2 linked regions of the Homo sapiens genome follow. The protein of the gene in region 1 interacts with the protein of each later gene in a biochemical or structural test. Each region holds a gene or a part of one and is shown on either strand. Other genes may lie near its edges. The genes, in order: CRTC2 and MFHAS1.

Region 1 (4,492 bases):
AAATCCTGCCCCAGGAGCTGGCCAGTTCTGAGCAAAGGATCCTCAAGGTCATTCTGCTCCTAGCAGGCTTTGCCCTGCTCACTGGCCTGCTCTTCATCCAAATCTAGGGGGCTTCAAGAGAGGGGCAGGGGAGATTGATGATCAGGTGCCCCTGTTCTCCCTTCCCTCCCCCAGTTGTGGGGAATAGGAAGGAAAGGGGAAGGGAAATACTGAGGACCAAAAAGTTCTCTGGGAGCTAAAGATAGAGCCTTTGGGGCTATCTGACTAATGAGAGGGAAGTGGGCAGACAAGAGGCTGGCCCCAGTCCCAAGGAACAAGAGATGGTCAAGTCGCTAGAGACATATCAGGGGACATTAGGATTGGGGAAGACACTTGACTGCTAGAATCAGAGGTTGGACACTATACATAAGGACAGGCTCACATGGGAGGCTGGAGGTGGGTACCCAGCTGCTGTGGAACGGGTATGGACAGGTCATAAACCTAGAGTCAGTGTCCTGTTGGTCCTAGCCCATTTCAGCACCCTGCCACTTGGAGTGGACCCCTCCTACTCTTCTTAGCGCCTACCCTCATACCTATCTCCCTCCTCCCATCTCCTAGGGGACTGGCGCCAAATGGTCTCTCCCTGCCAATTTTGGTATCTTCTCTGGCCTCTCCAGTCCTGCTTACTCCTCTATTTTTAAAGTGCCAAACAAATCCCCTTCCTCTTTCTCAAAGCACAGTAATGTGGCACTGAGCCCTACCCAGCACCTCAGTGAAGGGGGCCTGCTTGCTCTTTATTTTGGTCCCGGATCCTGGGGTGGGGCAGAAATATTTTCTGGGCTGGGGTAGGAGGAAGGTTGTTGCAGCCATCTACTGCTGCTGTACCCTAGGAATATGGGGACATGGACATGGTGTCCCATGCCCAGATGATAAACACTGAGCTGCCAAAACATTTTTTTAAATACACCCGAGGAGCCCAAGGGGGAAGGGCAATGCCTACCCCCAGCGTTATTTTTGGGGAGGGAGGGCTGTGCATAGGGACATATTCTTTAGAATCTATTTTATTAACTGACCTGTTTTGGGACCTGTTACCCAAATAAAAGATGTTTCTAGACATCTGTACAGTATCTGATTCGTTTGTTTTGGGAAAGGGGTGGGCATGTGGCCAGCCTGAGAGGGCCTGAGTCCCAGATGTTTACAGCTGTTTTAAGATTCTTGGTCTCACTGTTTTCACTCAGGACCCGATAGTCCCCTTCCCTGAAGATGACCTAATTTTTCCTCCTTTGTGTCTTGGTACTTCTTTCCCGGTCTCCACCCCTCGGCTTCCCTTCTCTTCCCTCCCCTCCCTCTTCCTTTCTTCTCTCTTCAATCCCTCTCTCCTTTCCGTTCGTAGTCTCAGGGCTAATTTAGAACTACTCTTCCCAGCTTGCACCTCTCAGGGAGTAGCCGAGAGGGTGGAGCCAAGTCCCCAGTTTCCGGAGTCAGCAGGGCTGCTGGGAAGTGGAGTCCGTTTCCTCCTAGTGCTGCGTGACTGGGGATGTGAAGGAGTCTCGTAAACAAACTACAATTCCCGGCGGCCCCCGCGCGCAACAGGTCAGGGCTAGGCTGGGGCCGGGTTCGCGGTGCTCGCTGAGGCGGCGGTGGCTACGGCTGGAGGAGCCGGGCCGAGGCCGCGGCGGAGGCCGCGGCTGGTACTGGGAGGGTGGCAGGGAGGGACGGGGAAGGAAGATGGCGACGTCGGGGGCGAACGGGCCTGGTTCGGCCACGGCCTCGGCTTCCAATCCGCGCAAATTTAGTGAGAAGATTGCGCTGCAGAAGCAGCGTCAGGCCGAGGAGACGGCGGCCTTCGAGGAGGTGATGATGGACATCGGCTCCACCCGGGTGAGGGGCCGCGCCGGGGAGCCGGAGCAGAGCTGAGCAGTTACGGAGCGGAGACCGGAGAGGCGGGGCGGGGGCGGGCGCCGCAGCGAAGGAGGCGGAACAGAGCAGGGGACGCGGGCGCCGCCGTTTGGGAGGCGCAGGTTGAGGGCCGAGGGGCAGGAAGAAGGATTTTGCCGGGGGAGACCGAAACACCGGAGAGGTTCGGGGTGTAGAGGCGACTGGGGGCCGAGTACGTGAGGTGGGAGTGGGCGGAGAGGGGAGATGAAGTCCGGCGGAGGTAGGAGGTGAGTGGTCCTTGTGCATCCCTGACGGAGTCCCCTCGAGGACGCTACTGAAGCATGCCTGGTATTGGGGTATGGCCTGGGAGGAGGGCTGCTTGTCTGTAACCTGGCTCCTCTGAGTTTGTGATCTCCTCCAAACTGGTCCCTCTGCCTTCTGCGCTTTGGTGCCCCCGGGAAAGGGCCCCTTGAGTGGTTTGAACGAGCGGTGCTGTGTATAGTGGGGCAGGAAGTCCCCTCCTGCGTCCCGTCCTTTTGCTTCCTTTTTCAAATACTTCTTGTGGTTTCCTGACGTGAATGAAGGTGAGGTCCATTGCTTGGTGTTTTGTCCTGGCCTCCTTGGAGGAGAGGTAGGGTTTTGAATCCGACAACTGGGTAACCGTCCGACCATAAGTTGTGTGGAACTCTATGGTTTGCTGAGCTTTCTAGGGAGTTGGCTGCTTTGTGGGTTAGTGTGTAGGGTGCCTTGGAGGGTCTTCTATGTGTTGAGAATATTCATTCCTAGGAGTTCTTGAAAGAACTTTCAGGCCTCTGCCAGGCTGCCTCTGAAGCCCCCCTGGCTTGGTTTCTTGCTTTCCAAGGCTGGAGGTCAGAGGGACCAAGGGGTAGGAGTCCGCCTAGGTGGTATGCAGTCTTAATTTAGGGACACATTCTTCTAAAACAACAGTAGGTAAGGATATTGCAATGATTCCTCATGGCAGAGAGCTAGAAGGAATTTAAGGATTGATGGTGGAACATTACTACAACATCTCTAGCCTTTTTCTGCTGGTCTGACTGTGGTTGCATTTATGACTGTGACTCTGGTTGTATTTTTGTGTGTATCCCCCTTGACTCTGTTACTTTTTTTTTTTTCTCGTCCTTTCCCCTTTGAGTCTCTAGGGACTATGTGCCCTAGTTTGTGGGAGTCAGAAGTTAGGTGGGGAGGCAAATCTGGGAGGGTGTCTGTGCACGCATGTGCACACTTAAATGCATGTGTGTGCATAACCCACTGTAACCATTGTGAGGATTATTATCTAACTGTAGACTGCTCCCCTTTAGGAGCTTTTTCATCATGTTGGGGACAGAGACAGGAAGATGGGAGGCTGATCTTGATAGCGTGAGGCCCTGCCCTCAGGACTGTGATTCTAGCAGAGGCATGGTGGGATCTTAGGGCTCGTATGTGCAAAGAAAGGCTGTGCGAAACTCAAAAGCTGGGGCTTCTCTTTACGGTGCCTCGATCTCTTAAAAGGCCCCTTCTACCCACCTTGCTCCTATTGGTTAATTTCTCAGCTACACAGAAAAGTCTAGTGGGCATACATGGCCAGGGGACCCAAAAGTCTAGAGCTAGGGACAAGAGATCTGGGACTCAGCCTGTTATCTGGCCAGGTGGGAGGGCTCATTTGAGACAGAGATGGCCATGGGAGGCTATACCACTGAGATACTGGGGTTGCCATATATGAGACCTCAAGTGGTCTTCAAGTGGTCCAGAGGTCAGCACAGTGCTCACTAGGCTGACCTCCTGGAACAGAATGTCAGTTCTGATGTTGGCTTCTGTACAAGAGTGTGACCCTGGAAGCTCTTAGAACTTGCCCCTCCTCAGCTGCCCTCCTCCCCATGGCCTTGCCCTGGGCCTGTTTATTTGGCTGGTCGCAGGGGCTGAGCCTTGGAAATAGATGCTCACCTCTCACAGAGACAGGATGTCTGTACACAGGCTAAACCCATGCCAGGCTGTCTTACGCCTATGCCAGACATAGCTCCCCAAAGTGAGGATGAGACCAGGAAGATGGCCCTGGCCCATGCTGGAGTGGGCTGCTGCTCTCTGTCCACCCTCCTTCTCCAGGCTTCCCTGCCAATTCAAGAGCCTTAGGATTCAGTGGAAGAATGTCCCTTGGTTTTGGTGCTGTTTTTCCAGCTAGGAGAGCTGCTATTCCTTGGATGTTCTAGTTTGGGAGGTGCAGGCTTTGTGTAGCCTTCCTGAGGCTGGGCAAGTGGCAGAGCCCAGAAGCCTGTGCTCTCCAGAGTGGGAAGGAAAGAGGCTGGCAGTAATGGCTCTGTGACATCCACCTGTGGCCTTCCTCTTAATCTCTCAATTAGTCCTGGACGCATCTGGAAAGAAAGCAGAGGTTCCTAATAGGCACTCCCCCTTGTGAGTAGCCCGGGAGCTCCTGGCAGCCCCTCAGGGACTCTGCTTAGAGTGATGCCAAATGAGACAGGCCCTCAGCAGAGTATCTGTCTCTGCCTGGCAGGATGATGTCAAGCAGTAGTGATATCATTGATGAGGGCAGTCTGCAGATGGGCTCTGGTGGGTTATTTGCACCAAATCTCGGTGGACCTTTCAAACCCCAACACTGGCCTTTTTTTTCTGGCAGATAATT
Region 2 (3,806 bases), on another chromosome or scaffold:
AGCTTTATTGATGTATAATTTCCATACCAGAAAATTCACCTGTGCAATGATTACTAACGTATTTGCAGAGTTGTATTTATACAACCATCACCACAATCTAATTTTAGAACGTTCCTTCACCCCAAAAAGAAATCTCCTGCCTATTTGCAGTTAACTTGTGTCTTATCCAACACCTAGTTCATGCAGTCAGTAAGTTTTTTTTGGTTTGTTTTTTTGGTTATTTTTTTGAGATGAAGTCTCACTCTGTAGCCCAGGCTGGAGTGCAGTGGCGTGATCTTGGCTCACCACAACCTCCGCCTCCTGGGTTCAAGCAATTCTTCTGCCTCAGCCTCCAGAGTAGCTGGGATTATAGGCACACGCCACTGCACCTAGCTAATTTTTTATTTTTTGTATTAGTAGAGAAGGAGTTTCACCATGTTGACCAGGCTGGTCTTGAACTCCCGACCTCAGATAATCTGCCCGCCTTGGCCTCCCAAAGTGCTAGGATTACAGGCGTGAGCCACGCGCCCGGCCAATAAATATTTTTAGTGTCACTTTCAGGAATGGTTTTGCAGGCTGGTGTGTTAGTATGAAGCAGATTTCTGAGCTTTTGTTTTGGGACAGAGTCTCACTCCTTCACCCAGGCTGGAGTACAGTGGCATGATCTCGGCTCACTGCAACCTCTGCCCCCTGGGTTCAAATGATTCTCCTGTTATCCCTGCCGAGTAGCTGGGACTACAGGTACATGCCACCATGCCTGGCTAATTTTTGTATTTTTGGTAGAGATAGGGTTTCACTGTGTTAGCCAGGATGGTCTCGATCTCCTGACCGTGATCCGCCTGCCTCGGCCTCCCAGAGTGCTGGGATTACAGGCGTGAGCCACCGTGCCTGGCCGATTTCTGAGTTTTAAAGAGGTTCTCATAAACACGTTATCCTTGGCACAGTTCAGTCTAAAGGCAGTGGCTTATCTTGCTCCTGCCACTGCCAGCCCCCTATTTCCTGGATGGTGGAGAGGAGCTGGAGCTGCTTGGAGAGCTCCTCCTTTAGAACTTCTTCATGGCAGCCTAATTAGGCCCTAGATATTTCAGGGGTACTGAGCCTTGACATTAGGAGTCAAAAGATAGGGCAAACCTATACTTCCCGTGGGCAAGGTAGGAAGCAAGTAGACCGCATTATCTTTTAAAGCTTTTATTTGTGAATTCCTGTCTCTGTCCAGCTACTCTTCAGGTTGAGACCCAATATTCCATTTCCCAGGGAGTGTGAGCTTCTCTGGACAAATGGCAGCTTGCTGGTTGCGTTTCATTTCTAGGGTTCCTGCAGAATGCTTCTCTTTCTCCTTCTAAAGAGCTTTAGAGCAAATCCGTCCTCCACCAAACTGAAGACTCTTTGATAACCTGCCAGATAACCCAGTTTATCTACTGATTTTTGGGTAAAAGACCAAGCAAATTCAACAGGTCATCATATGAAAATGTTTTACCTTGAGGCATTACTGGAATGCGACCCACATTCTAACATGTGGTTTCTTAATGGACTGACCCTTGAATATACAGGAAATGGGCATGTGTCACTCTTATTTCCTGATGGTTGACGTTTCTCCTGCAGCGATACCGTATCTGTCTGTGCTCCGATATGTGGGGAATGGTGGGAGTTCTGAGACTGAAGAAGTTAGTTCATTCTGATTTTGGCTGATCATGTGTTAACAGAATTAGCAAAAAAAAAAAAAAAAAACGGGTGGGGTGGTGGTTTGAAAATGGTTGAGCTAAGCTTTCTCCTTTTTTAGGAAGTACTAATAATAATAGAGGGGAAGGCTGAGTTATTGCATTTCGAAATACCCTTTTAAAATCTTGGATTATTGCCTCTATACTGTAGAGTTCCCATTCAAGCAAGATCCCCACTAAATTCCAGTTACTTGCTAGCTGTTTGTAAGTATTCTCAGAAGTACCGTGGTTACTTTGCACAGGAATTTTGGCAGTAACATCGTTTTGACATAAAGACATTTAAGACCAGTTGCAGTAGCCTTTCATAAAAAGCAGGATGAAGTCTGTAGCCTTTATATCACCAAATAAACAGGCCACGTATGCCTAACAGCACACAAATTAGCATGAACTTGATAAAATATTTTTAAAAAGCAGTGGCGTGATATGAATTAGGCTTCATCACAATGGAGAATTTTTCACTGACCACAGAATTTTAAAATATAGAGGGTGAGGATGGGATGGTATTTTATAAGAAAAGGCCACATGTGGAGGTTGCCTGTGGGGTGTTTCACATTGATTTGCATTGATTTGTTTTGTTCTATGCAAGGAGTGAGGCAGCTCTTTGCCTTGCTGTTTTAACAAGCTAGGAGGAATTGTGTTTCTTTAATTATTTAGTCTCCCGTCAGCCACATTGATACTGGAATTTTTCCCTCTCTGCTTAGGTATCTTCATACTTTCTTGGAAAATTAAGTGGAAAAGATAGTGCTTCTTTTCCTTATGCCATCATTTTTACTGTACCCAAACTGTGACTTTAGGAGCACCAATTTTTAAGGGTAAGTCTCCGTGAAACAGAGAGAATTTCTTAAATAGGTAAGGCCCTCTTGAGGACTCAGAGAGATTAGGGGGGATATGGGGGTGTTGGGATGAAGAGATTTTGGAGAACAGGAATCCTAGACAAACCTTATACATCTCTAGAATCAAGTTGCATATGGGAATTAGGAAGAAGGGAACTGCTTGATTCTTTTGCTTAATTTACTATGATATTGCATAGACAGTGATCTTAGATCCTTGTTCAAAAAAGGAAGTCATTTTTGAAAAATGTTAATATTATGCAGAAATAAAACATCAAGTGGGTCCACACCTTCAGGAACTACACAGGAAAGTACCGGGATGGTCACAAGTAGGGAAAGGGAGGGACTGGGGGCAGGAGGGGAGAGGGGAGGAACGGGCAAGGCCGGGTAGGCAGGTCTAGGACAGGCTTATTTGAATAATCTCAGTGGCCCTGGGGCAGAGGGGTTGCCTTAGTCGTCTGGCACCTGGCTCAGGGGTGATTAGGGCAGGTGGATGGTGGCCTGGAGTGTGAGAGCCAGTAAAGGAGGTGTTCCAGGTGTGGGTTCAGGATTAGTTGGTTTGTATTGGAAGAGTATACTCCGGGCAAATTGTTTTACCATCTCTAGGAATTGGCTAATCCTAGGAGGGGCAGTCCCTCCAGAGTTTGCAAGGTCCGGAGTAGGAAAGCACCAGAATACAGAAAATAAAAGACATGGTTAATACAACATGCCATGGCTTCAGTTTCAGCCTAAGTGTCTCGGTACCTTGCGTCATAATTTCTTTGTTGCATCCTGGAAGGGCAGATTTCAATTCCCTAACCTGGGAGGACTCGGGGGCTGGGTGCCCCCCAGGCTGGACCCTCCCTTCAGCCCCAGACCTCTGTTTCCAATGTCTCACGTGGCATCATCCCTGGATGTCTGTAGGCTTCACAGGTGTACAGCTGAATTTATTGCCTTCCTCCCGCAAAGTTCTTCCTCAGTCTGTGACCTGTCTTGGGTAACAGCGTAGCTTTGTACCATCGGCTCCAAGCTAGGAGTCCGTAAGCCTCATTGCCTTCCTCTGCTTTCTTCCCTATATGTAGTAATTCTCCAACACCTTTTATCCCATCTCATCTGTGTCGTGACATGAATGAATTTGACCCACATCTTCAGCTTCAGCCTCGGGCTTCCCTCTAGGGCCCAACCCCCCCAGCCACCACTTCCCCCGTCTCTGCCAAGGTTCCTGTGACTGAGTCTCAGCTGGCTGCCTGCTCTCTTATCTTTTTGTCCTTCAAACCGACAATAATTGTCTTTTAACATC

What was found.
Region 2: the proteins of CRTC2 (region 1) and MFHAS1 form a complex in vitro, tested with the Homo sapiens proteins (one large-scale study listed by BioGRID).

Annotation. Positions count from the first base shown.
Region 1 is NC_000001.11:153,955,713-153,960,204, reverse strand, and holds the start of CRTC2 (CREB-regulated transcription coactivator 2), read left to right. Parts: upstream 1-1,592; 5' UTR 1,593-1,707; coding exon 1,708-1,860; intron 1,861-1,974; exon of another isoform or gene 1,975-2,121; coding exon of another isoform or gene 2,122-2,144; intron 2,145-4,492. Other genes in the region: SLC39A1 (zinc transporter ZIP1), read left to right, coding at 1-107. UniProt on the Homo sapiens protein: Transcriptional coactivator for CREB1 which activates transcription through both consensus and variant cAMP response element (CRE) sites.
Region 2 is NC_000008.11:8,789,027-8,792,832, reverse strand, and holds part of MFHAS1 (malignant fibrous histiocytoma-amplified sequence 1), read left to right. Parts: intron 1-2,398; coding exon of another isoform or gene 2,399-2,426; exon of another isoform or gene 2,427-2,508; intron 2,509-3,806. UniProt on the Homo sapiens protein: Probable GTP-binding protein. Functions in innate immunity and more specifically the inflammatory response as a regulator of the Toll-like receptor TLR2 and TLR4 signaling pathways.